Linked DNA regions of Homo sapiens. The protein of the gene in region 2 purifies or fractionates together with the protein of the main gene of each other region. This does not show direct contact. Each region holds a gene or a part of one and is shown on either strand. Other genes may lie near its edges.

The links.
Region 1: the proteins of CDC14B (region 2) and HMGCS1 purify together in Homo sapiens (affinity purification with mass spectrometry; one large-scale study listed by BioGRID and IntAct). This does not show direct contact.
Region 3: the proteins of CDC14B (region 2) and MRPS33 purify together in Homo sapiens (affinity purification with mass spectrometry, with the first as the bait; one large-scale study listed by BioGRID). This does not show direct contact.
Region 4: the proteins of CDC14B (region 2) and TRIM36 purify together in Homo sapiens (affinity purification with mass spectrometry; one large-scale study listed by BioGRID and IntAct). This does not show direct contact.
Region 5: the proteins of CDC14B (region 2) and PPP6R2 purify together in Homo sapiens (affinity purification with mass spectrometry; one large-scale study listed by BioGRID and IntAct). This does not show direct contact.
Region 6: the proteins of CDC14B (region 2) and GRHPR purify together in Homo sapiens (affinity purification with mass spectrometry; one large-scale study listed by BioGRID and IntAct). This does not show direct contact.
Region 7: the proteins of CDC14B (region 2) and ANKRD50 purify together in Homo sapiens (affinity purification with mass spectrometry; one large-scale study listed by BioGRID and IntAct). This does not show direct contact.

The regions. Positions count from the first base shown.
Region 1 is NC_000005.10:43,299,527-43,303,465, reverse strand, and holds part of HMGCS1 (hydroxymethylglutaryl-CoA synthase, cytoplasmic), read left to right. Parts: intron 1-3,939. UniProt on the Homo sapiens protein: Catalyzes the condensation of acetyl-CoA with acetoacetyl-CoA to form HMG-CoA, which is converted by HMG-CoA reductase (HMGCR) into mevalonate, a precursor for cholesterol synthesis.
Region 2 is NC_000009.12:96,518,648-96,522,586, reverse strand, and holds part of CDC14B (dual specificity protein phosphatase CDC14B), read left to right. Parts: coding exon 1-81; intron 82-3,939.
Region 3 is NC_000007.14:141,012,065-141,016,768, reverse strand, and holds the start of MRPS33 (small ribosomal subunit protein mS33), read left to right. Parts: upstream 1-1,816; 5' UTR 1,817-1,858; intron 1,859-2,089; exon of another isoform or gene 2,090-2,218; intron 2,219-4,704.
Region 4 is NC_000005.10:115,163,240-115,167,178, reverse strand, and holds part of TRIM36 (E3 ubiquitin-protein ligase TRIM36), read left to right. Parts: intron 1-3,426; coding exon 3,427-3,661; intron 3,662-3,939. UniProt on the Homo sapiens protein: E3 ubiquitin-protein ligase which mediates ubiquitination and subsequent proteasomal degradation of target proteins. Involved in chromosome segregation and cell cycle regulation. May play a role in the acrosome reaction and fertilization.
Region 5 is NC_000022.11:50,437,240-50,441,178, forward strand, and holds part of PPP6R2 (serine/threonine-protein phosphatase 6 regulatory subunit 2), read left to right. Parts: intron 1-266; coding exon 267-364; intron 365-603; coding exon 604-661; intron 662-934; coding exon 935-1,059; intron 1,060-1,359; coding exon 1,360-1,523; intron 1,524-2,458; coding exon of another isoform or gene 2,459-2,461; coding exon 2,462-2,618; intron 2,619-2,721; coding exon 2,722-2,810; intron 2,811-3,561; coding exon of another isoform or gene 3,562-3,582; coding exon 3,583-3,787; intron 3,788-3,939. UniProt on the Homo sapiens protein: Regulatory subunit of protein phosphatase 6 (PP6). May function as a scaffolding PP6 subunit. Involved in the PP6-mediated dephosphorylation of NFKBIE opposing its degradation in response to TNF-alpha.
Region 6 is NC_000009.12:37,428,879-37,432,817, forward strand, and holds part of GRHPR (glyoxylate reductase/hydroxypyruvate reductase), read left to right. Parts: coding exon of another isoform or gene 1-54; intron 55-853; coding exon 854-958; intron 959-1,632; coding exon 1,633-1,768; intron 1,769-3,129; coding exon 3,130-3,260; intron 3,261-3,939. UniProt on the Homo sapiens protein: Enzyme with hydroxy-pyruvate reductase, glyoxylate reductase and D-glycerate dehydrogenase enzymatic activities. Reduces hydroxypyruvate to D-glycerate, glyoxylate to glycolate, oxidizes D-glycerate to hydroxypyruvate.
Region 7 is NC_000004.12:124,670,886-124,674,824, reverse strand, and holds part of ANKRD50 (ankyrin repeat domain-containing protein 50), read left to right. Parts: intron 1-2,290; coding exon 2,291-3,939.

The DNA.
Region 1 (3,939 bases), on a different chromosome or scaffold from region 2:
GGTGCCAGCGTGGTTGGTTCCCGATCAGGGCTCTCCTCCTGGATTGCCCGTGTCCTCACATGGCATAGAGAGAGTATGACAGCATGAGCAAGCTCTCGTTTTATCTTCTTATAAGAGCACTGATCCCATCATGAGGGCCCCATTCTCATGACCTCATCTAAACCTGATTATTTTCCAAAGGCCCCATCTCCAAATGCCATCACATTGAGAGTTAAGGCTTCAACATATGAATTTGGTGGGGAAACCCAGACATTTCAATCCATAATTCAGGCAGATATTTGGGAAGTAACACAGTTGAAGCACTGAATGCTATATTTCGTACTATCTAAAGAATCTAGGATGTAATAAATTTAAGATGCTTCATTGCCAATTAAATTAAGATACAATGCTTTTTTGATTACTTAGAATTTTTTAAAGAGCTCTTTTAGAGTTAGACATAGATTTTTGTCATATGTCACTTGCACATTCAATAAGATGGAAAACACAAGTGAAAAAACACATAAGGAATTGCTAAATTTCACATATTTAGAGTCTGCCTTCTGAATTGTTTTTGGAGTCAGAGTTGTTAATACCTGTAATTTTCCGTTAAACATCCTCTGTGCCGCCAAGAGAATTGGTGATGTAGCATTCCTTTCAAGATCCCAAAAAAGAATGCGAAGGTTTTGGTGCTGGCCTTCAGCTTTGCAATTATGCAAAGCCAGCCTACTTTGACTGCTGCTTAGGGATTCCCCATCTTCTACTTCCTTCCCAGTCCATTTGGTTCCTAGAGGGTGAAATGAATGCTCCAGTATCATTTCTGGGAATTTCTTTCAGGCTGTTGACTGTCATATGCAAATGTCATGCTGGCAGTTTTGTTATTTTCCCATGTGTAAGCAATGACAACATCATAATTGGCTTCTGTCTGATAGCAATTGTAAGAGGAATCCCAATTTCTGAAATGTTACCCAAAAAAGTGACTTTAATTGACGAAGTATGATGATGTAGAAGGATAGGCAAGAAATGCAAAAGGTAATTTAGAAAGGTTTCATGGGTAAAATGTGACCTATGTGATCTAGGGCTATAAAGGATTTCAATAAGCAGAAGCACGAGGTGGGTTGTTGAAGAAAGCACTAAATGTTTTTGGATAAAGAATATAATAATTTGAGAGTAAAGGGTAGAGGGAGGGTTATGTAGGTAAGTAGTTGTAAGATGGGGAAAGATTGGGTAGTATTTAGCATTTATCCTTAATGTTGACTTCAGTGTAGTTCTCTTTGTGTGTTTTCTAGTATAAACTGCATACATGAAAGTTAAGAATCTTGTGTTAAGTCCCATATAGGAAGGAAGTAGATAGGAAAACCAAACTGGAAAAATGTATGGAGATGTTGGTGAAATGACAGGAACGAAAGCAGCTTGTCTGAGCTTGATCTCTTCACTTCCTCAGTGGTGGTTCTGAGCGCTGGTTTGGCTGAACTCCACTTACCAGGGAAAAGGGCATAAAGTAAACAGGGTTTGTGTGGAAGAAGTGGAGTAGAACAAAGTGGAGAGGATCTCTGTTCATTTAGTGTATCTGACAGTGTGCTTGTCAAGTCATAAAACACTTGAGGATGGAAATCTGGAAGTCATTGTATACATTTTCTTCTTTCCCTAACATCTAGTCAGTTACAGTTTCTGCCAGTTCTTTTGCTTTTTCCATGTTTTTGGAGGCTGTTCCTCTTCGCTCCACATGTAGTAAATGCTCTAGTTCATGACCCATGTCTTATCTGGACTGCCATGTCAGCTTCCTAACTCATCCATTCACAGCACCAGTGACTGTAAAACAGCATTAGTGAGGATAAAACAGTGGCTGTCAAACTTTTTTGACTGTGGCCCCCAGTAAAAATACACTTTGTATTGCAACTTATGTATACTTTATATATGTATGAATAATTAAAACAAAAGGTTGATTCAAGAAAAATCTTTACATTTACCCTGTGCCATGCAATCTTATATCTTGTATTCTTTTCTGTTTCATTTTTTTAAATGTGTGCTTGCCATCCACTAAATTGATTCCGGAGTTGGAAAAACACTGACCTGACAACTAATATCACCATGTTATTCCTTAAACTCTCCGATGGCTTCTTACTATCTTCATGATAAATTTGAAGCCCTCAACATCAGCATACCAGAACCTTCATGACCTAACCCTTACCTAGTTATTCTAATCTATTATTTACCTGATCCACTCAGCTCACATTTCATTCCAATAGACAAGTAAAGTTTTTTGTAATTCCTTGTAGCTTGCCTTTCTTCATGGTGTCCACTCTGTTGAAAATCTACTACCCTCCATTTCTTCAGTGCTTTACTGCTTACTCCTACCCATTCCTGGGGCTCAAGTCAGGCCCCTATAACCAGGATGCTTTTCCTAACACTCCTTGCCCTACCACCAGGCTGGGTTAGGTAGTTCTCCATTATATAATGTGGTTCTCAATGTTGTTACCTGTTTATTATTATGTGTTTTTCTCTTATTGTCCCATAAAATAGTGAATATTCGAGAGGATAAGGAAGTCTCCCATTAAGCATCCCTAATGTTTAGTATGTAACATGTTGGCATTGGTTGGATGAATGAGAAAAAAAAAAGATTCTTCTGTTTGGAAGGAAGATACAACTGGTATCCCTTAAGTCTTTTCTTTTTTTTTTTTTTTTTTCCTTTCTCTATAGACAAGGTCTCACCATCACCCAGGCTGGAGTGCAGTGGTGCAATCACAGCTCACTACACCCTTGTACTCCTGGGCTCAAGTGATCCTGCTACCTCAGCCTCCCTAGTAGCTGGGACTGCAGGCATGCACCACCATGCTCAGCTCATTTTAAAAAAATTTTTTTTGTTGAGACAGAGTCTTGCTATGTTGCCTAGGCTGGTCTTGAACTCCTGGGCTCAAGTGATCCTCCTGCCTCAGCCTCCCAGAGTGCTAGGATTATAGGCATGATCCACTGCACCTGGCCCCTTAAGACCTTTAATTGCAGAGCAGCAGAGGACAAATGACATAAATACAGGATTTGACTTTCATTTTTAAGTATCAAATTAGTGATGGGTTGACAAACAAGTCATACAGAATGTTCATGAATCAGTTCGGCCCAGGTAACTCATAACCCAAGACCTTTGGGTCAATGAAATTCTGCCACCTAAGTAGCACCATCCAATGATGTCATACCTAAAAAGGAAATTGAGTTGTAGAATTTTAGGTTTTAGGATTCTTTCTCTAAAACTGAGGAGCTGTGCCACTCTTCAAAGCCTCACAATTACATTTCATTGGTTCTTATGCCATCTGGGTTCTGGTTAGAGGGCTGATGGAAGTACTCAAGAAATATTGGAAGTACTCAAGAAATATTAGAAGGTGGGAAGAAGGTACCTCTCTTGTTCTTGTCAGTGGCAGCACCAACAGTGGGACTTTGGGTCTCTGGGTTCCAGCTCAGCAGCAGAGGTACTAGTACTGTAGCTCCAGCAGCTTCAGCAGGAGTGCAGGCTCATGGGATCAGAGAACCACCTTTTCCGCTTTGTTCTTCCAGCCCAGCCAACAAGTTTGTAGCTATTTCCCTGCATTAAAACTCCCCTCTGTTTGAAATATCTATAGTAATTTTTCTTTTCCTGACTAATACAACCTGTTAAAGAAGCTGAAGCTCTGGTAAGTTAAATGCCCAACAATGGTCTTGAGTAGCTAGTGATTTTTGTTGCTATTGGTAAGTAAATCTAGACACTACTTTTTAGTCCCTTTTTTAAAAGAGGACTGGTTTATCTATGATGAATACATGATTGATTGATTGATTGATTGATTGATTTTTACTTTTTCTTTTTTTTTTTTTGAGACGGAGTCTTGCTCTGTCACCCAGGCTGGAGTGCAGTAACATGATCTCTGCTCACTGCAAGCTCCTCCTCCCGGGTTCACGCCATTCTCCTGCCTCAGCCTCCTGAGTAGCTGGGGCTAC
Region 2 (3,939 bases):
AATCAATGGAGTGACACAAGGTGATAGACTTCGGGCCTTGAAAAGCAGAAGACAATCCAAAACAAACGCTATTCCTCTCACGTGAGTCTGGGTTCCTTTGTTGTGGTTGATGTTTCTTCATATGTGTGTGGGGTCCTTGGTGAGGGTTTTTCCTGTACATTTTTCTCCATAGTTGCAAGCCCATGATGCCACTTTGAAATGCTTGCCTATGTTATTTAAAACCTAGGGGTGCTGGCCTTGGAAGCTCTCAGCTGTCCCTTGTTTACCTTGGTCCTCATGAGCCTTTATGGGTGGGAAGGCGACATCAGGGATACTTTTTCTCCATGAATAATCAGCATGGGGCATCCTCAGGAGCGCGACAGCAGATGTAAAGCCCAGGATGCCAGACTTGTCCATAGTTACTAAAGTGGTGTATTTCTTTACATTTGCCATGTTGCAGATCATTTGTTTTGATAAGCATGACATGATGGCTTAATGACATTATGTTGTTTTGGGGCAACAATGAACTGGTCTAAACTATATTTTGGGTTTTTCGTTTGTTTCTTTGGGGAATGATTTTCTAATTATAGAGGAAGATTTAGCCTGAGAATAGGAAATGTTGTAGTACTGAGTGTATGTATGTCTATGTGTACATTCTTGTGAATGTGTGTTAGTTGGGATTCAACCTGATGGAGCATCCAAGATTGTTAGAAAAATATGCAGAAGCAAAGTACATGACCATGGTATTTTTTGTAGGCTGTTCTTTAGTAAATGCTCCCACTTGTTGCCATTGGATTTCTTCCTTCTAGTTACTTCCTTTTTCATTGTGGGACACCAGATTTCCAGCCTTCTTTTTTGCGGGGAGGGAGTGTGATGGACATAGATCATTTATTCAGTAAGCATCTTGTAATATGGTAAGGAAGTATGATATAATATACCATTTATATTGGCAGAGAACAGGTTTTCTTTTCAATTAAAAGTAATTCCTCACTAGTGTCTCGTCATAAAAATTCTGAAGTAGAATTACACCTAAGGCATGTGTCATTATGGGTTGCTCCCCTGGGAGGTTCTTCTTAAAAGACCCAAGGCAAAGAATTGAGTTTTACAATATGCAGTGTTATGTGAATGAATGTAGGGCATCCATTTTGATTATAGGCATTTATTAAGCATTTCTTTTGCAACTTAGTGGTACTTTAGTCAACTATACTTTTTTAAAAATGGTGCCTTTTGGCCAGGTGTGGTGGCTCATGCCTGTAATCCCAGCACTTTGGGAGGCCAAGGTGGGCAGATCACCTGAGGTCAGGAGTTCAAGACCAGCCTGGCCAATATGGTGAAACCCCGTCTCTACAAAAATACAAAAACTAGCCGGGCATGATGGTGGGAGCTGTAGGCATTATAGGATCCCAGCTACTCGGGAGGGTGAGGCAGGAGGATCGCTTGAACCCGGGAGGCAGAGATTGCATTGAGCCGAGATCGTGCCATTGCACTCCAGCCTGGGTGACAGAGTGAGACTCTATCTCAAAAAACAAACAAACAAACAAAAATAGTGCCTTTGTATAATTTACTTAACTCCAAATGCCATTTTGTTTTTAATTTCCTTATTAAAAGTCTTCACCTAAGGCCTTAATGGTTTTTCTTTGGAAGTATTATGGTGGCTCCAGGTAATCATCCAGATACTAATTCTGGATGTGGTGGAGGAGGCAGGCAGCACCCTCGAGCAGTGCTTCTCAGACTTCAGTGTGCAGGAGGCACCCGGGCGCTTGTTGAAATATGGGTTATGATTGGTGGGGTGGGGGTGGGGCCCAAGAGTTCACATTTCTATCCGAGGCTGCTGGTCCAGGGACCACACATTGAATTGCAAGCCCTAGGAAACTGATGCTTTTGTGGGTTGATTTTAGCTGTGTCTGGGATTTTTTGTTTTGTTTTTCAGAATCAGCATCATCAGTTTATGTTTTAATATTTTGTTGCCTGCTGTTCAAAAGTCAAGTTGAGAGTCAGGGGATACAAATCCTGCTTAGTCAAAAGTTTTTGTTAAATAGGAAATTTCCTTTAGTCACCCTCTGAATCTGCTACTCTCATTAACGTGAGTTCAAATCTAGCTGGGCGTGGCTGTGCGCACCTGTAGACCAGGCTATGCGGGAGGCTGAGGCAACAGGACTACTTGAGCCCAGGAGTCTGAGGCTGCAGTGAGCCATGATCACTGCATCCAGCCTGGGTGACAGAGTGAGACCCTGTCTAAATAAATAAGTAAAATCAAGTACAATGGTAAAAGTTAAAAAACAAAGAGGTAGCTCAGGATTCCTTTTGGTAATATCCCAAAAACAATATATATAAATAGCCCCACATAACACAAATAACAAAGTTTTAGGCCACACTTTTAAAGAAGAAAGCGAAATGCTAGTTTTTCTAAGCTCTGAGTTATGTGTATAGACCCGAGGGGATTTTTGATGAGTCTCAGCAAATCTCCTTCCTCCTCCCTTACAACATTTTGCTTATCCCCGTCTCTGCTTTTTCAAACCCTCTCTGCTATTATTTGCAGTTTTTTGGCCCTAGAAAAGATCAATTGAAGATTTTCTTTCTTTCCCTCTTGTGTCTATGTTGTTATTTTAGGAATAGAAGTCCCTGAGGGACTGTTCTCAACAGTTGCTTGGGTTGAAAAATACAAAATCAATTTCTTCATCCAAGTTTGACTCATTGATTTCTGTGAGCAAGTTATTTTGCTTTAGCATTGGCACTTAGCCTTATGAAAATACAGTACATGCAAGAAGGAAAGTTAGTGAGAAATACACAAGTACTAGTGATTCTTAGGAGAAGGTTATAGTACATAAAATATTATTCCAATGATTGGTTTCTCTTTTTTTTTTTTTTTTTTTTTTTAAGACAGAGTCTTGCTCTGTTGGCCGGGCTGGAGTGCAATGGTGTGCCCTCGGCTCACTGCAACCTCTGCCTCCCAGGTTCAAGTGATTCTGCTGCCTGAGCCTCCGGAGTATCTGGGATTATGCACCACCACACCCAGCTAATTTTTTGTATTTTTAGTAGAGACAAGGTTTCACCATGTTGGCCAGGCTGGTCTCGAAATCCTGACCTCAAGTGGTACACCCACCTCAGCCTCCCAAAGTGCTAGGATTACAGGCATGAACCACCGGCGCCTGGCCGGTTTCTCTTTTATAAATGGTCAGTTTTGGGGGAGAGTTTAAGTTTTTAGTGATTATAAAATGGCCATTTGCTCAGCCTGTCTGATCCTGACTACAATGATGACAGGAAACCATGTGGCACCATGACATTGAGCTGATCTTCAGGACGTGATGACAAGTATATTGTCTGTGCTAAAATGGATTTGGTAGATTGCATAACTTGAGCCATGAGGCCTGTCGTTCTGCATACTGATGGTTTTGGTAGGTTTGGAGATGAGTATATCTGTTAGCAATGGAAAATAATTCTTTTTTTATTTTTATTTTTTATTTTTATTTTTGAGACAGAGTATCGCCCTGTCGCCCAGGCTGGAGTAAAGTGGTGCGATCTCGGCTCACTGCAAGCTCCGCCTCCTGGGATCATGCCATTCTCCTGCCTCAGCCTCCCAAGTAGCTGGGAATACAGGCGCCCACCACCACGCCCGGCTAAATTTTTGTATTTTTAGTAGAGACAGGGTTTCACTGTGTTAGCCAGGATGGTCTCGATCTCCTGACCTCGTGATCTGCCCACCTTGGCCTCCCAAAGTGCTGGGATTACAGGTGTGAGCCACTGCACCCGGCCGGAAAATAATTCTTAAGCCATGAGGTTTACTAGAGGAAAAAGTAACCATCTATAATGCTGACACTTGGACATTCGGGCCATTCTGCCTTTAAGGAACTGAAGGTGAAGGCTGGGATCGGTAGAGAGTTCTCTAGGGCTCCCAGACCATTTATTCATTCCATTTAAATATTCACCCCTGTGATCTTTATGTATATTAGTAGCTTGTTT
Region 3 (4,704 bases), on a different chromosome or scaffold from region 2:
GAAAAGGCCTTTGAAGATGTGACTAAATTAAGGATCTTCAGATTGAGAGAGTATTTTGGATTAGCTCCATGGGCCTTAAATGCAATTACACATTCCTAAAAGGGAGGCAATGGGAAGTCTGACACACATAGTGAAGGCAATGTGAAAAGGGAGCAGAGATGTGAAGATGTTGGCCTTGAAGTCTAAAGTGATGTGGCCACAAGCCAATGAATGCCAGCAGCCACCAGAAGCTGGAAGAGTCAAAGAACTGATTCTCCCCTAGAGTCTCTGGAGGGAACACAGCCCTGTCAACATCTTGATTTTGGCCCAGTGATGCTGATTTTGAATTTATGGCCTCTAGAACTGTAAGATAATAAATTTCAGTTGCTCTACAACACCAAGTTTGTGGTATTTTATTATAGCAGCCTCAGGAAACTAATATGAACCCCCATGAAATTGACTTAATAAAAGTGATAGTGCAAAGTACCTAAACAGTCACCTGAAACTCTATATACCTAGCTATGTTTCAAGAAAGATTTATGGTAGCTTATAGTAATTCACAAAACATTGATAACACCAATAATTCATACGTGAAAAGGAAAAAACAGGAAGGATATACAAAACGAAGCCAACAAGGTTTATGCAAAAAATATATATATGTGTGTGTATATATATATATACACACACATATATATAGCTCTTGCCTCGAGCCAATTAAAATTTGGCTTTAAACCAGCAGCTTACACGTAAAGGAAGTCTTCTTGTTTATATGATTCAGTGGCCATTACATAAAAACAAGCCAACTCCACAGAAACAAGTACAAAAGACAAGACGAAATTTCTCCCAGGAGTTTCGCTCCTTAGGACTTCTTTTCTGGACTGTAGCCATGTATAGGATACTCATTACCCCTTTGTAAACTTAAATGTAGTCACTAGACCCAACTTTATAAGGCTGTTTACTATATCATATAAGGCTGATAACATGTCAAAACTTAACTTGATAAAAGCAAATCCTATAGCATAGATTGATTAGACGTCAAATTCTAACTTAAAAGTAAATTCTGTAGGAGGAAAGAGGGTGTAAATACAATACCCACTAGGTAGGCAACTCACTACCGATATTAATTCCAGGGTACATTTTGAAATATTTATAAAATGCCTTGAACGATACTCAGAAAACGAGTACAGTTTCCTCACCCAAACTATCAAACATTGAGTAAGTGCTGCATACAATGCCTATGGGATGTGGCTTGCTTGAAAACAGATTTAGTATGGGGTGAAATACTCACAATGCTTTCTACTATCTGCCCAGCGAGGTCTAAGATAACTACTGAGGAGACAAACGTTCCATCCCCTACTCCCTGAAGAAGCTCCTGGGTCAATGGGGGAAAGCGCTCCTAACCCAGTAGCAAGGAAGGCTTGCAGCTAGGGATCCTAATTAACTATTAGAAGATGAGCAGATAGATGGAAGGGGAGGGGGATGGCGCCGCAAGTCGGTCAGAAAGACCACACGGCACACGCATCGCCATTGCTTCAGAGCTTTTGGAGGCAGGTCTGTAGCCATTCCCACCAAAACATACTACCGAACCGTGCATGCCCTTCCAGGAGAGCCAGACCTTTCTAACTCTCCCCAGCCCACCACCTCCCCGGGTCCTCCGCACAGGCGGCGGCGCTAGCCTTACTGCGCAGGCGCCAGGTACACCTCGGAGGCCTCAGGAGGGGGAGCCAGTAACTCCGGGTCGTTCACTAGGGCTCCGCTCTAGCTGCCAAGCTTCCGTTTCTCTACTGCTCCCCGTAATAGTTGCCTGCGCGAGCTTGGAGCCGGGTAGAGGGCGGGCCTTCCGGGACGAGGGCGCGTGGGTGAGGAAGGTCAGGTCTAGGTAAGGCTGTCGGTGACTTTGGGGGTCTGCAGCAAGGGGCGATGGCTGCGAAGTCTACGGGGGTCTCCAACCTTGTAGAGTCGCCAGGAATAGGGCGAATCCACTTCATTAGTGACCAGCTCGGGCGGTTCACGTGCATCACACAAATAACTTGGCCTTTTTCTGCCTCAGTTGGGGGATTTCTTAAACGTAGAATACCCGCGTTTCCGCTGCCGTAATTTCCTCTCAGGCGCAATTACTCTCTTCCATATTGGTTAACAGTAGAAGGCTCAGTTTCTCTGCTCATCACACGGCCTTCGGCACTGTAGCTTTGGGTGGTGGGCTGCAGATTAATTTTGTAACCACCTTAAGAAAAATACGGTAAGGTGATATTTAAGAAAAATATTTGCGAAATGCGCTCCCGAGTCAAACATCGGTTGACTTGACAATACTACAGTTTCCATCACAGTCAGGCATGATCGAGTCAGGTGGAGGGAGTTGAAGATTGTTCTTGATGAACTGAATGCAGCTAATACATTTTCAGTGCCGTTGATGCCTCTATGACTCCGTAAAATAATCGGTACCGGGTTTTTTTGTTTTTAAGCATTCTGTTGAGATTGTTTTTATGTTTAGATTGTTTCTATGACAACGTGTGTACACTGTATGTGAATTCCTTGGATCCTGATGGTTATTAGGGTGGGCACTGTGCCGTGAATTTTGCATATTAGCTTCACATCGCAGATAGTATGACTGTCCTCGTGTAGTCGATGAGAGAACCTGGCAGAGAATAAGCACCATTACAAAAACGACGTGGCCATTAAAAGGCAGAGGCGAGATTCCAACCAGCTTTTTTATTCTGCAGCTGGTGCGTTCTGCTAACCAATGGTTTTTGGGAAACTGGAGAAAGCTCTCTCCCAGAACAATTTACACACACACATACATACACATATCGGCATACAGATGTACACTTCCACTGTTTTCAAAACGCTGAAGCACATCCCGGTTAAGAACTCTTGCACTTCATCTTTACCTTTCAAAGAGAAAAGGCAAACCTAATACAAAGCCACTTATTGAAATAATCTTTTAAATGCATCAGACCTATCAAAAAGATCAAAGAAGTTTGCCCTGTTATGCCAAAGTAAAAATATGGGAATTTTCTTCTCATGTGGGCTTAATTTGTTTTGCTCAGCACATTTGAGTAATTTGTTTTTGCTTAGCATTTTCAGCTCCAGTTAACTTTTTTCATGAGAGTACAGTTTTCTTTAGTTCACATTTAAAGAAAGGTAACACTTAAAGTGACTTGTACTCCCCGAGAATGGTTTCATGTGAATCAAAATGTAATTGACATGCACGTTGTAAGAAAAGCTCCCGTGTTATTCTTCGTGAGAGACATGTGTCTGTGCACTGTGGAAGGAAACAACAAAGCAGTGTCATTGGTAATTGTTAAAACCACTTTCAGTTTCCTCCTGTTTAGCAAGTGGGCCTTTGTTTCTAGTAAGGGATTCAGGTTTGAAAAGGCTTATTCCCTTTCTCTGTCATAAAACTTTAGGACTTGGATTTTATGATATAACCATGTTCCAGCCTATTCTAGTGTGACCTTTTTACTTACAAGTTATGTATCCCAGTAATTTGCCACATTCCAAAATGGGCATGGACATAACAGCAGCATCCTGTGATGGCTTCAGTGACTACTGTCCTACTGAGTCCCTTCCTCCTCCTGGCTATCTTGTCAAGTTATCAAGGTGCTGGTCCTCTCCCTATGTTTCTCTGGCTGTCAGTCTTTGTAAATGAGGTCATCATTCCAGGGAGGCACAAAGTTTTTACTATATGGAGTATCTATCTGTCTGTCTCTCTCTCTTTTTTTTTTTTTCTTAAACATGATTAAGAACAAGGAATAAACAAATGTGTCTATGTAGAATATATGAAAACCAAACTTACAGATCTGGGCTCGTTCTTTTTTGTAAGTTACCATTTACTACTCAGTGCCACTGTTACTCATTTTCGCACTAGTCATGCAAGCTTTGTTTTCAGAAAAGGAGACTCAGAGAAGATGAGTAACTGTTCACAATAACCCAAGGATTAAGTGACAGAGCCAGTAGTCAAACCTAGGCCTCAGGAATCCCTGTTGCCTCTTCATTGACAAATAAAGGGACTTGGAATTCAGAACAGATTTTCCTGAAAACACTGTAACAAACTGATAGTTCCCATACCAGCTTACAGATAACTAACTGTGGAAATACTGTGCAATTACAGCAGAAATATATTCTGATGCCACAATGGTAATTAAGCAAACAAAGCAAAGTTGATGAAGCAACTATTGTTTTTTAATCTAATGTTTGGAAAAAGGTAACTTTAAAGGGCAAAGGAAGAGAAAAAGCATGCAAAGAAACTAGGTGACTCTGGACATTTGCAAGGCTTTTTAGAGGTTTATGGCACTGATTTGTTTATACATTAAACTGCTAAATGAATTTTTTTCACCTTGAGACTATAACCCTAGTCCTAACAACCCCACCCCCAACCAGAGTTGGCAAAGAAGTGAATCAGGAAACTGAGAATGCTGAATGGAAAAGGAAGAACAGGCTTGTAGGTGATCTGCAGATGGTGGGGAGGGAGGGGTGGACGTTGGATCTGACAGTTCTACCGTTGCCAGCCTTCAGGTGGCACTATTGACCCAAAATTGCTTGGTTGGTGTTCTGAATGGTTTTGAGGTTGACAGTGGTTTGAGATCAGCCTCTGCTTTTTTTTTTTTTTTTTTTTTGACACACAATCTTGCTCTGTCACTCAGGCTATAGAGTACAGTAGTGCAGTCATAACTTAGTGTAACCTCAAACTCCTGTGCTCAAGTGATGTCCCCCTCCTCAGCCTCC
Region 4 (3,939 bases), on a different chromosome or scaffold from region 2:
GCAGCCTCGGTATCACAGGATCCTTAGGGTGTCGCTTCACCAGCCAGAAACCTCTGTGGCAAGTGTTGCCTTTGCCCAAGTTTTGCTCAGGCCCACTGGGCTTGTTCTGCCCACTTGACCCAGCAGGCTGTGCTTGGTTTTCACTACTGGCCCAGATCCCACGGCTGCCAACGGCAAGCCAGGTGCAGAGCAGCAAGGGGTGCATGAGTGAGCGAGCGCGGGGTACAGTGTGCACAGCCAGGCATGGTGGCTGTGGCGGGGCAGGCAGGTCCAGGTGCCAGTATGGGCGCCGGCTCCTTGCTGTGGCTGGAACAGGTGTACCACAAGTGGCTCCCACTACAAGCACTGTGGAACATGGTGGCACCCAGAAACTTGGAGATGCCGGCAACTGCAGAGCCACAAAGAGGATGTCACAGCCCTGGCTTGGGGAGCTCCTAAGTCCAGGCTCCCTGAAGGGCTGCAGCTCTTCTCTCCTCTCTTGTCTCCTCATCGTCACCCACAACATGGCGAGCAGCAGGGTGTATTTGACACAGTTTGTGTTACAGCTTGTTTGGTCCTGCCATTTGGCAGGTCCAGAGTTCCTGTACTGTGTCCAGGAAGAATGAGCTACATGGACAACTGGAGGGTGAACAAGGTGCTTTATTGAGCAAAAGAGTAGCTCTCAGGAGACCTGTCATGGGTAGCTGCTTTCTGCAGGCAGTTCCTCCCGACAACTGCAGCTCTCAGCAGAGAAGAGACCCGGAGTGGGTACCTCCTCTCTGCAGGCAGGTCATTTTGTCGAGTGTGCAGTCCTCAGTGGAGAGGAGACCCAAGTGGGTAGCTCTTACCTGCAGGCAGGTCGTCCTATCATCTGCCAGAGTCTGGCTGAGTTTGCGGTTTTTATGGGCTTCAGAGGGGAGGAAGTGTGTGCTGATTGGCCCATGGGTGGCCATGGGTGGGCCTGGAAAATTCACTGTAAGTTTTCACTCCAGTCAGTGGAACTGGCAGCCTGGACCCTAGGCTTCAGGCTATCCCTGGCTTGAAGGTGGGGTTTCAGCAGGGACCTGTCCCTTTCCTCCCAGGAGCCTGTCTCCCTCCCACTGCTGTTCATGGTGCCCAGACTGTTTTAGCTGAGGGACGCCTGCAGTACCACGTTGAGTCACCCTCAGCCCTGCCCTTGGCCTCCCTCCCACGTTCATCAGCGCCCAAAGTCCAGAGGGAGCTGAGGTGGCAGGGGGCTGGTGTGTCAGCATCTCCTCAAGCACACACACACCTGGCCAGGTCATGTCAGTGCCCGGGCTTGGCCACAGCTTTTCTCCAAAGTCAGAGTGGGCACTGGGAATGGGGAGAGGCCAAGCAGTAGGAGCAGGCACTTCTGAGCATGTGGGGGAAGAGAGGCATCCTGGGCCCCCGAGAGCATAGGAATGCCCTAGTCCACAGCTGGGTGGCTGCAATTGCACCCAGGAGCATGGGGCTCCCTCCGCACCAACTCGGAAGGGAGAAGGGCTCCTGCCTGTTCCTGGGTCCCGCTGGCTCTGCAGAGCAAGCAGGTCCGGCTGTGCCTTCCCAACTGCAGCCAGCATCTTTGCAGCAGCTGCTCCAGATGGGCTGCAGCTGCCATCACTGGGACTTGGTGCCCTGTGTCCCAGCTGTTCCAGTACCAGTTGTGGCTAAAAGGGGCCAAGGTACAGTTCAGACCATTGCCTCAGAGGGTGCAAGCCTTGGTGGCTTACACATGGTGTTGGGCCTACCAGTGCACAAAAGTCAAGAGTTGAGGTTTGGAAACCTCTGCCTAGATTTCAGAGGATGTACAGAAACACCTGGATATCCAGGCAGAAGTCTGCTGCAGGGGCGAAGCTCTCATGGAGAACCTCTGCTAGGGCAGTGCAAAGGGGAAATGTGAGATATAAGCCGCCACACAGAGTCCCCACTGGGGCACTCCCTAGGGGAGCTCTGAGAAGAGGACCATGGTCCTCCAGACCCCAGAATGGTAGATCCACCAACAGCTTTCATCATGCGCCTGGGAAACCTGCAGATACTCAATGCCAGCCATGAAAGCAGGTGGTGTGTGGGCTGTACCCTGCAAAGCCACAGGGGTGGAACTGCCCAAGGCCATGGCAGTCCACCCTTTGGATCAGCGTACCCTGAATGAGAGACATTGAGTCAAAGGAGATCTCACTTGTGAGCTTTATGACTTAATAACTGTCCTTTTGGGTTTCAGACTTTCATGGGACCTGTAGCCCCTTTGTTTTGGCCAATTTTTCCCATTTGGAATGGGAGCATTTGTCCAATGCCTGTACACCCATTGTATCCTGGAAGTAACTAACTTGCTTTTGATTCTCCAGGCCCCTAGGCAGAAGGGACTTGCTTTGTCTCAGATGAGACTTTGGACTTGGACTTTTGAGCTAATGCTGAAATGAGTTAAGACTTTGGGGGACTGTTTGGAAGCATGATTGGTTTTGAAATGTGAGGACATGAGATTTGGGAGGGGCCAGGGCCACAATGATATGGTTAGGTTCAAATCTTATCTTGAATTGTAATCCCAAGGTGTTGAGGGAGAGACCTGGTGGGAGGCCATTGAATCACAGGGGTAGATTTTCCCCATGCTGTTCTTGTGATAGCGAATTCTCATAAGATCTGATGGTTTTGTAAGGCAGTATCCCTGCTCTTGCTCTCTCTCACCTGCCACCACGTAACACAGATCTGCTTCCCCTTCTGCCATGATTGTAAGTTTCTTGAGGACTCCCTAGCCATGTGGAACTGTGAGTCACTTAAATCTCTTTTCTTTATAAATTACCCAGCCTCAGGTAATTTTCTTTATAGCAGTGTGAAAATGGACTAATACATACTCATAAAGTGCTTTTAAGATAATTGCTTTGATATACAGCATGAGAACCTCAGGCATTAATGAAGAATGGTCGCATTTAATGTAGAAAATTGCTGATAATTCAGCTTGTAAATAGATACCAACTAGGTTTCCATGAACATACTGACTCAGCTAGTGTTTAATAGCTCCTGTTATTTGTCAGTCACAGTGTTAATTCACTAAATAAGAATATAGTCTTACTCTTAGTGCTGTATTCAAAATTTTTATTGACATGATCTACTTTTAGGATTTCACCGAAGTCCTAAATCAGTGCACTGGTGATGGAGATTCGAATGATGGCTTTATAATTTTTGATAAAATATCATGGTCCCCTAATATTTTACATAATTTTTCTCTTCATTTTTGCCTTTTACTATCTCATGTTCCTTCAGTTCTGGGTTATGGGTGTTGAGGGCAGTTGATGGTATCAAATTTTATTGGGGAAAAGAAATTTAAAATTTAGAAAATCATTTTCTTAATTCTTTTTGGAAAAATAAACACATGTACTTATTCAGGAGGTATAAGAATGTTAATATATTTACCCACTAAGAGCCTTTAACTTGGACTATTTTACTCTCAAGGTTACCATTAAGAATATCGAAAGGGAGCTCATTTGCCCAGCATGCAAGGAGCTGTTTACCCACCCATTGATTCTCCCTTGCCAACATAGTATCTGTCATAAATGTGTAAAAGAACTCCTGCTGACTCTCGATGATTCATTCAACGATGTGGGATCAGACAACTCCAATCAAAGCAGTCCTCGACTTCGGCTCCCCTCCCCTAGTATGGATAAAATTGACCGAATTAACAGACCAGGTATGTGTTAGAACTGTGGGCTGGGATGGTAGTGGGGGTAAGCTTATAGATATATATTCAGTGGTAACTGGAAGGAAAATTATTTTTGTCATCTTGAGAGTTAATTTTTCCAGGTGAATAAATTAAAACTGTAGTTATAAAGGGGCCTCCCCCACTGTTAAAATGTCAAAATGAACTCTCGTCTTTTGATACATACTTGAAGTAGATATTGGATATTGAACATGAACTTTGTGTTAAACTCCTTATTAACTGTGTTTGTAAGTCTGGGCACAGTGGCT
Region 5 (3,939 bases), on a different chromosome or scaffold from region 2:
TCCACCTTGATGAGAGCACTGAGGACACGGCAGATGGACTCGAAAGTCAGAGAATATGGGGCGTATCTCAGATGTGACCGCAGCGAGCGCGCAGCCTGAGTTTTGGTAGAATCGTGAGCCCTGAACAGAGTTTACTGCCCACTTGTGCTGGAGGAGAAGCTCCCGAACAACTAGAGAGATTGTGGTTCCCAAAGAGCAGCCTCCAGGCCTGATGCCTCCTCCATGACCGGTGTCTGTCCGTCCCTCCCTCCCTCCCTCCCTCCCAGGCCTTCTCTGACTACCAGATCCAGCAGATGACAGCCAACTTCGTGGATCAGTTTGGCTTCAATGATGAGGAGTTTGCCGACCAGGACGACAACATCAAGTGAGTCTACTTGGAGCGCACTCTGCACGAGGCGCGGCTCTCCCTGCTGCTGAGCTCCCGTGGAGGCAGCTCCCTGAGGTCTTGCCGGGAGTGCCGTCTGATGTCCCCGGGAGACAGCAGGTGTTCCCAGTTGTGTGAGGGTGCTGAGGCCCCCGATGAGCACCGGGGGAGGAGCACTGAGGCCCCAGATGAGCAGTGGGCCTGGAGGAACGCTGAAGCCATCCCCCTTGCTCTTGCAGTGCCCCGTTTGACAGGATCGCAGAGATCAACTTCAACATCGACGCTGACGAGGACAGTGTGAGCAAGCCGGGCTGTGTGGGGTGCCGCCACCCTTTTCCCAGGCAGCTCAGGCCATGCCCATGGCTCGGTCTGTCATGGGCCTGTGCGGTGGGGCTGGGAGAGGCCCCTCTGTGGAGCTCGGAACAGTCGCTTTCCTTGCCCCTCCCCGTCCTCCCCTCCAGCCCGGGGCTCCCACATCCCGAACTAAGCCCCTCTGGGAGCTCTATGGGGAGAGCGGCTCCTGTCTCCCCCAGACCCTCTGGAAACTCACCTTGGCGTTTTACTCTGCAGCCCAGCGCAGCTCTGTTTGAGGCCTGCTGCAGTGACCGCATCCAGCCCTTTGATGATGATGAGGACGAGGACATCTGGGAGGACAGTGACACTCGCTGTGCTGCCCGGGTGATGGCCAGACCCAGGTGCGGGGCCTGCCCATCCCCACAAAGCCTCTGCCGAGGAGGTTCAGCCCCCAGAACACCTGTCAGACGCCCTGTGGTTCGTTAGCTGGCTTGCAGAGCAGCCACACCTGTCCTGCCAGCTCTGGGGCCCAATGCAGCGGGTGACCCTAAGGAGCCCAGAGCTGAGGCCTGGAGCGTCTCGTGCTCCTCTCTCGAGACGATCTGTGCTCACCCTCAGCCCCGAGCCTGGGGCCGCCACTGACCCTCCATGTTAGGCGTCCGTCCTGGGCCACCAGACATCTGACTCTGAATCTCCCCCAGGTTTGGAGCCCCCCATGCTTCAGAGAGTTGCTCAAAGAATGGCCCAGAGCGTGGAGGCCAGGATGGGAAGGCGAGCTTGGAAGCACACAGAGATGCACCTGGGGCAGGTGCCCCACCGGCCCCCGGGAAGAAGGAAGCGCCCCCTGTGGAGGGTGACTCAGAAGGTGGTGCTGGGCGCCAGGGGCTGGGAGTGTGGGTATCGGGGACAGGACATGGTACCCCGGCCTGGGTGTTGTGGAGGCTTCATTTGGAGCTGAGGCATTTGGGGCTCACTGTGGCCCGGAGCCTGAATCCCCAGCTATTTCCCAGCCGTCCTGAGTAGGGGTCTGTGCTGCGCTGTGCCCAGCGCAAGGTGGCCTCCTGCCCCTGCCTTGCAGTTGTGGTCACTCAGCCACGTTGCCAAGGCTGGTGGGTGGTGTCCACCTAGTCTCCATCGTCCGTCCAGCCCCCACACAGTCAGGCACAGGCCTGACGCCCTCCCCAGCACAGCAGCACAGGCCGGCCGCCACCTTCATGGCCGACATCTATGGCAGGAGCCAGTCCACCTCACAGGCCGCATGGCTGATGAGACCCCTCTCCTTACCCTGCCCTGGGGGCAGCACTGAGGCACTCAGGACTTTGGTGGCGGGGGCAGAGATCTCTGTTAGGAGGGGCTGAGCTCTTCGCTGACAGAGCAAGGGTGACACCCTGGGGAAGCAGGAACATCCCAGATAGGAGGAAGACACCCCATCCTCGAGGCCAGGAAGGGGCCAGTGGTGCTCGGTGAGCTGCCGGCTCTGTGGGTTGCGGTCCTGGGTAGGACAGGGCAGTGGCATCACCTCCACACTGTCAGTGTCAGTCCTGCTGGAGGCCTGGGGGCCCTCAGGCACCTGACTGAGCCCCAGGTCACACGCCCCATGGGTGTCGGCAGCTTGTCAGGACCCTCGAGCTGTCCCCTGTTGCTCCTTGAGGGGCTGACGGGCACTGCCTGGGCCTCCCTCCTGGAGCAGCCCCATCTTCCTGTCAACCTCTGAGGGGCTCCCGGGGCAGGGGCGCTGCCTCCCCTTTGCCTGCAGCACCCCAGGCCTGCCCACGCCTGACCACTGTGTCTCTCCCCCAGCAGGCGCCATGTGGACGGCAGTGTTTGATGAGCCAGCGAACTCAACGCCCACAGCCCCAGGAGTGGTGAGGGACGTGGGTTCCAGTGTGTGGGCAGCTGGCACCTCAGCTCCAGAGGAGAAAGGCTGGGCCAAGTTCACTGACTTCCAACCTTTCTGCTGGTAACAAATGCGCTGGCAGGAGGGGGCTGTGCCAGGAAGTGCCTGTCAGGGCCAGGAGGCACCTGTCCCCCAGGACTGATCCTGTCCTCGTCCTTGTATGCAGCTCCGAGTCAGGGCCCAGGTGCAGCTCTCCGGTGGACACAGAATGCAGCCATGCTGAGGGCAGCCGGAGCCAAGGCCCTGAGAAAGCCTGTGAGTAGGAGCAGTGCAGGCGGCACCCAGCCTTGCCCAGTTTAAGGCCTGAGGCCAGCTGGCCCCCCTCCTTGGGGGCAGTGGGAGGAGGTGGCCGGGGCCTCGCATGCTGCTACGTCTCTGGTGACATTGGGGTTTGATACAGCAATGGGACTGGAGCAGCCACGTGTAGATGGGGAGGCCCCCAGAGGGGAGGCAGCAAGGCCATTGGGCTGGCTCTGAGCCTGGTCTGAGTAGGTGGCACAGCTCAGGTCTGCACCCTGGATTCCGGACAGCAGCACTGGGACCCCAGCATTGAGATGTGTGTGGGTGGGTTGTTGGCAGGAAGCTGTTCTGTGGCCTGATCAGAGCCCCTGGCCCCCAGCCCCCTAGTCAGGCTCAGAAGCTCCCCCAGATAAGGCTGAGAGCTCCAGGTGAGTGACAGCTGGCTCCCAACACTGGTGTCCCCGGTTTTGGGGTCCTTTGGGCTTAAAGGAGCTGTGGCAGGACCACACGAGGCGGAGTGGGCCCCTCCCTGAGCCTCTGCGTCCTCCTGTGAGACCAGGGCATGTGTCCCTGTATCATGGGGGAGGCAACAGGGTTGTTTGTGTGGAGACCCCATGGCAGGTGCGTGAGCCTGTCTGCCTCATCATGCGGCTCCCACACAGGCACATGTGTGCAGGCAACAGGCTGCATGTGAGAGGGCCACATGTATGGGGACCCTATGGCTGGAGTGGCCGCACCCTGTGACCCCTCCTGCCTCACTGGACAGCACAGGCCTCCTACTTTGCAGTCAGCCCGGCTTCTCCATGTGCCTGGAACGTGTGTGTCACCAGGAAGGCCCCCCTGCTGGCCTCTGACAGTAGCTCCTCTGGGGGCTCCCACAGCGAGGATGGCGACCAGAAGGCAGCGAGTGCCATGGATGCGGTGAGCAGGGGTCCCGGCCGGGAGGCCCCCCCGCTGCCCACAGTGGCCAGGACAGAGGAGGCTGTCGGCAGGTGTGTGGGGCGTGGCGGGGGCGGGCCTGCCGGGTGCATAGGGCGTGGCTTCCAGGCTCTGTCCCCAGGTCTCAGCTCCCCTGAGAGGAGGTGAGGCCAGGCCAGGGTCTTCTCCACACTGCCTCCCCCATGGCCCCGTGACCCTTCAGAGG
Region 6 (3,939 bases), about 59 Mb from region 2:
TTACCGTGAGAGAGCCCATTCCCCCGACACCTACTCCGGCTTGCGTTCTGGAAGGTATGTGACTCACAAAGCCCTAACTCGGGCCGGAGGGCTCAGTGGGCAGAGTTGATCTGCAGTTCTGCAGATGAGGCAGAGACACTTTTCTTCCAGTGGCCCTTATTTGGAGAAGCCTGGCAGAAGGGCGTGAGCCTAGCCAAGCAGCTATCTATTGGTGGTTCTCTGTCATCCTGCCTGGTGCAGGGGTGCGGGTGAGGGTGGAGAGTGTGGAGAACCTGTCTAGCCAACGAACAGCCCTGCCTCTCACTAGAGAGTTGCTTGGAGGAACCCAACAGCTTTGGGGCACGTTCTGAGCCTGAAAATCCAACTGTACAAATCTGTCTCAGCAGCAGCTTACATGAAAATTGTAAGTTTGGGGTGAGCTGGCAGTTTGGCAGTGCCACCAAAAAGTCAAATGGGGTCTGAGACTGCATTCACAGAAGCAGAGGGTCCAGGACAAAGGAGGGGACTGCTTGACCAGGTGTCTCCCTTGTGAAAACCTCTCCAGTTCTCAGAGGTTAGGAAAAACCTGAGTGGCTTTCCAGATGGCTTGGACCATGTGAGGACAGCATCAGCCAGTCACAGCCTCAGGGGAGCTGAGGTGCTGTCTCCAGATCCCTGGGGCAGTGTGGGCTGGCTGGGGGCTAGTTACAGTGGGGCAGCCAGCCCCCCACCCGCTTTGGAGGAGACAGGAGCAGGCAACTCGGGCTGTGCTGATGAAAAGGGTCTGCCCTGAGGGCCGCTGTTCCAGAAATGCTGGGTGGTGTCCCTACCCTTTGCGGGACTGGGAACGAGACATGGACTCTCCTTGCTCTAGGCCAGGCCATTGCTCGGCGTCTGAAACCATTCGGTGTCCAGAGATTTCTGTACACAGGGCGCCAGCCCAGGCCTGAGGAAGCAGCAGAATTCCAGGCAGAGTTTGGTAAGTGAAGCCTTGATTTCCACAGGAGCCTATCTGTGCCCAGTTGAGAGGCTGTATTTTCTCTCAATGGTGGCATTTTCAGGCAGAGGGCAGGAGCTCCAGGCATGTCCAGGGGCTGCTGTCTGGTAGATGTTTAATCTACCTGCCCCTGGACACTGGCCCACTCAGGGAGCACAGGGACTTACCCAGGTCCTCTCCGAGCCAGCAGAGCAGTCCAGGGCTCCCGTCTTTCAGAGTCCTTTGTTACCATTCCCCATTGTGGGCGGAGCAGCGGGGATGGTGGTGGGTGTGAGGAAGGGCTGGGCACTTTCACTGTCTTTTCCTTCATAAACTGGCAAGCACTACCCTAGCCTTTGTGTGCGCCCCTTAGTCCAGGCGGATCCAGCACCTGGCGGGTCCACAGCCTGGTGAGCAGATGGCAGGCTGGATCTCAAGCATTCCCCACGCCCCTGGGCACTTTGGGCCCTGAAGGTAGTTAAAGCCAGAGTGGTCCAGATCCCACTGTGTGTGATTTGACTTTGTGCACTCATGAGAGTTGTCCAGGTAGAGACTCGGCCTTCAGGAAGCATCTTGGGAGTTTCTGTTAGGGAGTCGGGAGCAAGGGGCTGGTCTCCCGCCATCTGGTTGTCCCTAGCCTGGGACTCAGTGCCTGATGGAGTCCTGCCCTCCCTCAGTGTCTACCCCTGAGCTGGCTGCCCAATCTGATTTCATCGTCGTGGCCTGCTCCTTAACACCTGCAACCGAGGGACTCTGCAACAAGGACTTCTTCCAGAAGATGAAGGAAACAGCTGTGTTCATCAACATCAGCAGGTATCCTAGGGCCACCTTACCCAGCAAGCCTGGAGAGGAGCCATCCCCACTGCTGCCATCTGGAGATTTTCTTCCCCGTGGGTTGTTGGTGAGACCCCAGGCTGAGCTTGCTGGTTTCCATAAACCAAACAACCAACTCAGAAATTCGTGGGAATACACGAGACCTCCGTACAGGGAAGAAGAGCCGTCAGAGTGGGCCTGGCCTGTCTGCTTCTCAGCAGTGGCCCCCACCCGGCGGGGCCTGGCACACAGCAGCGTGGCTTCAGGGAGTGTTCCCAGGGAGCCTCTGCAGGCCCATTATCCTCCACCACAAAGGGCTGGACTTGAGGATCTGAAGGGCCCTCTGGAGGCCGCCTCCCACACTGCTGAGCCTGGCTTTGTCTGGCTGTGGTTCAGTGATACTTTGAACCTTATGCTCCTGGGCGGACAGACCCTAAAACTCACGTGGTCGTAGCTCCTCACACTGTCCCTAGGGGTGCCTTCAGGCCACTGGGCATGTATGGAGGTCAGACCTTCCTTCTCTGCCACTCCAAGCCCTTCCTAGCTGGTGCCCCTTGAGCCTGTTTACATCAGTTTAGGGGAAGGGGGATTGGGTGAGGTCATCCTGAGGACTCGTCCACCCCAAAGGTACCTGTAATTACCAACATTTAGCTACAAAACAGGTGACCTGGGAATGGAAGAGTGAAACATGCAGGACCACAGGGCTCGCACTGCTGGCTGGCAGCAGTCACAGCTGCCGTGTACTGGGTGCCTGCATGTACCCAGGACAGCCCAGGACCGTGTATTACTCATTAGTGCACAAGTATTACTTAGTGCACAATATACAGTCTCTAGAAGATGACTTCTTGCCTTCAGTCGCCGCTCCCTTTGATGGCTGTGGTTAGGGGTGTGCTCGTTCCTCTGCCCTGGTTTAGACAGGTACCTGATAGCACACTGTGGTGCTTCTCAGTGGGGGTCTGGGGGTCAACCAGATCAGAAACACTTGGATGGGGCCTAACACAGATGCCCTTCTGGGCCCTGTTCATGCAGTAGAGCATGTAAGAAAGCTTTAATCCTCCCAACATGCCTGGGAGTTAGGTGGTATTCTCCTTATCTCACAGAGTAGATAATTTGAGACACAGATAATTCGAGGCACAGAGAATTTGAGACACTTGCCCAAGGTCACACAGCTAGAAGGAGGCAGGGCTGGAGTTCTCTGAGTATATAAGACTTACAGACATACTGTAAGTATACCTAAGACTTACTGCTTTAAAAGTCAGTGCCAAGTGAGTGGAAAAATTCATTCTGTAGGTTGTTCTGCCTCAAAGGTGGCCTGGGCGGAGGGATCTTCGGGGTACCCATGTCACCACTGTCATTCCCAGGGGCGACGTCGTAAACCAGGACGACCTGTACCAGGCCTTGGCCAGTGGTAAGATTGCAGCTGCTGGACTGGATGTGACGAGCCCAGAACCACTGCCTACAAACCACCCTCTCCTGACCCTGAAGAACTGTGGTAAGAACTGCACTTTCTGATGCAAACTCCCTGCTGCCCTGCAGGACCAGTGTTTTTGAGGGGGTCCCAAGGGGCCGGGTGTGGAGCTAGTGTGAGCAGGTGTTGAACCCAAAGGGACACACCAGGGATCGTAAATGTTTATGTTGTCAGTGACATGGGTGTATGACAGGAGCAGTCCTCTTGCGCATGCTCTGCTGGGTCTCTGTCCCTAAAGGAACAGAATGTAGGTGTGAGTGGATTTGTTTAAAAAAAAAGAGTGGGCCAGGCGTGGTGGCTCATGCCTGTAATCCCAGCACTTTGGGAGGCTGAGGTGGGTGGATCACGAGGTCAGGGGTTCGAGACCAACCTGGCCGATATGGTGAAACCCCATCTCTACTAAAAATACAAAAATTAGCCAGGTATGGTGGTGCATGCCTATAGTCCCAGCTGTTTGGGAGGCTGAGGCAGAAGAATCGCTTGAACCCAGGAGGCACAGGTTGCAGTAGGCCGAGATTGTGCCACTGCACTCCAGCCTGGGTGGCAGAGTGAGACTCCATCTCCAAAACAACAACAACAACAAAGTGGGCTGACTACATGTCTCCATGTGTTACACCACAGTGACTCGTGTAAAACCTGTTACTATAAATTGCTATTACCAGTTTAGCTGTGAAAAATTAAAAGTGTAATGACAATGCCAATA
Region 7 (3,939 bases), on a different chromosome or scaffold from region 2:
TCTTCTATCTAAAATCCATATTATTAAGTATTTAGATTGGGGGGAGATTTATTCTCTAAATTATAAATTCTCTGTAAGTTTTCTTTATGAAATTCTATACTTTCTTATAGAATTAATCCTATGTCCCTACTCCCTCCTCTTCATTCCCCTGTCAAACACTTGAGTTTTCTTTCACAGCTTTCTATTCTTGTTCCTATCTTAATGAAAAGAGCAAACTTCAAAGTCAAACAAAACAATCAAAATTTATCACTTTCTAGCTGTGTTACTGTGAGCAATTTATTTAGCCTTTCTGAGCTTTAGGTTCCTCATTTTTTAAAATAGAAATATTTATCTCCCAGGCTTAACAGACAAGGAAGTTTTATAAATAATGAATACTTAAACTACTACCTTAGTTGACTCTCAATAAATGTAGCTCTCCTTTATTCCTTTCTGTAGAACCCTACCTGTTACTGTGGAGTTTCTGTCTTAATAATCTCAAGTTCCAATCATGACATCTTAGTTAATTAGGTTTAAATTTTAGATATTTATTCATAATGTATTATCTTTCATGTAAATCAAGTAGTGTAATATAAAGTCTTACATTAAAGTAATGTAAAGTATTACATTGCTTCAGAAACTTTAAAACACTATATAATGTAAAATAATATTATTTCTTAAGTAACTTATTTTATTAGCAATGTACTAGGTATTTCCCTTATCTAACTTAAATTTTAAAGTGAATTGATAAAGTCAAAAGCAAATGGACACACAGAAAAAGATTTGGAGGCAAATCATCTCACATCATTGGTAAATATAGATTGCTGTAAATTTCTAGGTATGTTTTAAACCCTCCTTAGGTGAGCAGTGACTTTTTCACAATTGAAATTTATCTTTTGAAATTATTTCTGTTGAGGATTTAATAATCAATTGTGTGTGTATACATATATATGTAAAATTAGATTCTATTTTTATATAGATTTAGGGCTATATAAATCTATATACAAAGGGCTATATTAGTACAACTGTTATTCATATTTTATTCTTGGTAGGTTGTTTTTAATTTTTCAATAACTGTCCATTTTGTCTACATACTTAAAGCTTAGTATTACAAAATTGAGTTCATCAGCTTTTTCTCCAAACCTATTATTTGTCCTTCACTGGTCTCTTTTTCAGTCCTGTTGGCAGAGCCACAAGTTAGTGTCAGCTTTGACTCGTCCTTCTCTCTTTACTTCTCCACATTCACCAAACACTGTATAATCTAGCTCTTATTAAAAATTCCCAAGTCCATCACGTTATTTTTGCTGCTGCTGCTGCTGCTGCAACTGCTGCCACCACCATGGCTGTTCAGGCTCATAGTGATTTTCATCTAGAGTGCATCACAGCCTCTTTAAAAATCGTTTTTCCTTTAGTCTTGACTTGCTCCAGTTCTTCTTTAGATGTTAGAATATTCCTTCAAAATGCAAATCTGGTCATGTTAGAGACTTGGTAAGTTCATTCACTTAGCAGTTTTTTGTTCTGTAAGATGAATACACAATTGTCTAATAAGTTCATATCTGTATATCATGATGTCATCTGCCTTTAGACAGTGAAATTATGGCTTCCTTTAAAGAACTTAAAATGAGTTTAAAATAGCTATAGCTAGTATATTTTTAGGTTGGTTTAAATCTTATTATTTATTTTACAGTGCTGAAGTTTTTTGACCATAATTTAGCCAAAAAGTTGGATCTTAATTGGTTCAAGCTATTTATTGATGGTCTGAGATTTAGTTATTTTAGTTTGATAAAATGTACAGTAATGTAGTTTAAAGACAATGACTGGATATTCTAATTGGATGTAAATATTCAGTCACATAATTAAGGCTAGTGTATATTCAAGTGTATAGGTGAAAATATATAAATTATTTATATGGAAGAGATTTTGTAAAAAGAAACCTTACTTGTTATGTCTCCTGCAACTTTTTTTCCCAATCACTTGGGAGTTCAGATGATGTTAACTGGGTACTTTTATGGTTATGTAAGACTGTCTGCTTCTTAATTAGTATCTATTACAATGGAGTTGAGAGAGGCACCAAGCTACTAAAGGAATAAGTAGTTCAATTTGTAGGTAGGAAAATGAAATTTTTCTGCCATCAGTGTGTTTTTGCAGAAAGAAAAGAAAACTGATTTACATACTAATAGGTATTAATTGATCTGCTTATTAGTATTAATTTATTAATTGATTTATTTATTATATGTTGACATTCTCTTTGAAGATATGGTACTTCTATAATCCTTTTCAACTGATTACATCTACTTTTTTATCTCTTCTTTAGGTTTTCGAAAAATAAGTTTAGATGACCTTCGGAAGGCATATATCGTCAAGGATGTTCAGCAGTACATTCTTCATCGTTTAGATCAAGAAGAAGCTTTGCGACAACACCTCACAAAAGAAACTGCAGAGATGTTAAATCAACTGCACATTAAAAGCAGTGGATGCTTTCTTTACCTAGAACGAGTTTTAGATGGAGTTGTAGAAAATTTTATTATGTTAAGAGAAATTCGTGACATCCCAGGAACTCTAAATGGTTTATATCTCTGGCTGTGCCAAAGACTTTTTGTAAGAAAACAATTTGCAAAGGTTCAGCCTATTTTGAATGTGATTCTTGCAGCCTGCCGACCTTTGACCATAACGGAATTATATCACGCAGTATGGACCAAAAACATGTCGTTAACTTTGGAAGATTTTCAACGCAAGTTAGATATCCTCTCCAAACTTCTTGTTGATGGACTAGGAAATACAAAAATACTGTTTCATTATAGTTTTGCCGAGTGGCTTCTGGATGTGAAACACTGTACTCAGAAGTATTTATGTAATGCAGCAGAAGGACACAGAATGTTGGCTATGAGTTATACCTGTCAAGCCAAGAATTTAACACCATTGGAAGCACAAGAATTTGCATTGCACTTAATTAACTCAAACTTACAATTAGAGACAGCGGAGTTAGCTCTGTGGATGATATGGAATGGTACACCTGTCAGAGATTCCCTTTCTACTTTGATACCCAAGGAACAAGAAGTGCTACAGCTGTTGGTTAAAGCTGGGGCTCATGTCAACAGTGAAGACGATCGCACATCATGCATAGTTCGACAAGCCTTAGAAAGAGAGGATTCCATTCGGACATTATTAGATAATGGAGCTTCAGTAAATCAGTGTGATTCAAATGGGAGAACATTATTGGCTAATGCTGCATATAGTGGCAGTCTTGATGTAGTCAATTTACTTGTCTCTAGGGGAGCAGATTTAGAGATAGAAGATGCTCATGGACATACACCACTCACTCTAGCGGCTAGACAGGGACATACCAAGGTGGTTAATTGTTTGATTGGGTGTGGAGCAAATATTAATCATACTGATCAAGATGGTTGGACAGCATTAAGATCTGCTGCTTGGGGTGGCCATACTGAGGTAGTTTCTGCACTACTTTATGCTGGCGTAAAAGTGGATTGTGCAGATGCTGATAGCCGAACAGCTTTGAGAGCAGCAGCATGGGGAGGACACGAGGATATTGTACTGAATTTGCTACAACATGGCGCTGAAGTGAACAAAGCTGATAATGAAGGTAGAACTGCTTTGATAGCAGCAGCATACATGGGACATAGAGAGATTGTGGAACACCTACTGGACCATGGAGCAGAAGTAAATCATGAGGATGTTGATGGCAGGACTGCACTCTCTGTAGCTGCACTTTGTGTGCCTGCAAGTAAAGGGCACGCATCAGTTGTTAGCCTTTTAATTGATCGAGGTGCTGAAGTAGATCATTGTGATAAAGATGGCATGACTCCACTGCTGGTAGCTGCCTATGAAGGACATGTTGATGTGGTTGACTTGCTTCTAGAAGGGGGAGCAGATGTAGATCACACAGATAACAATGGCCGTACACCCCTCTTAGCAGCAGCGTCTATGGGTCATGCATCAGTTGTA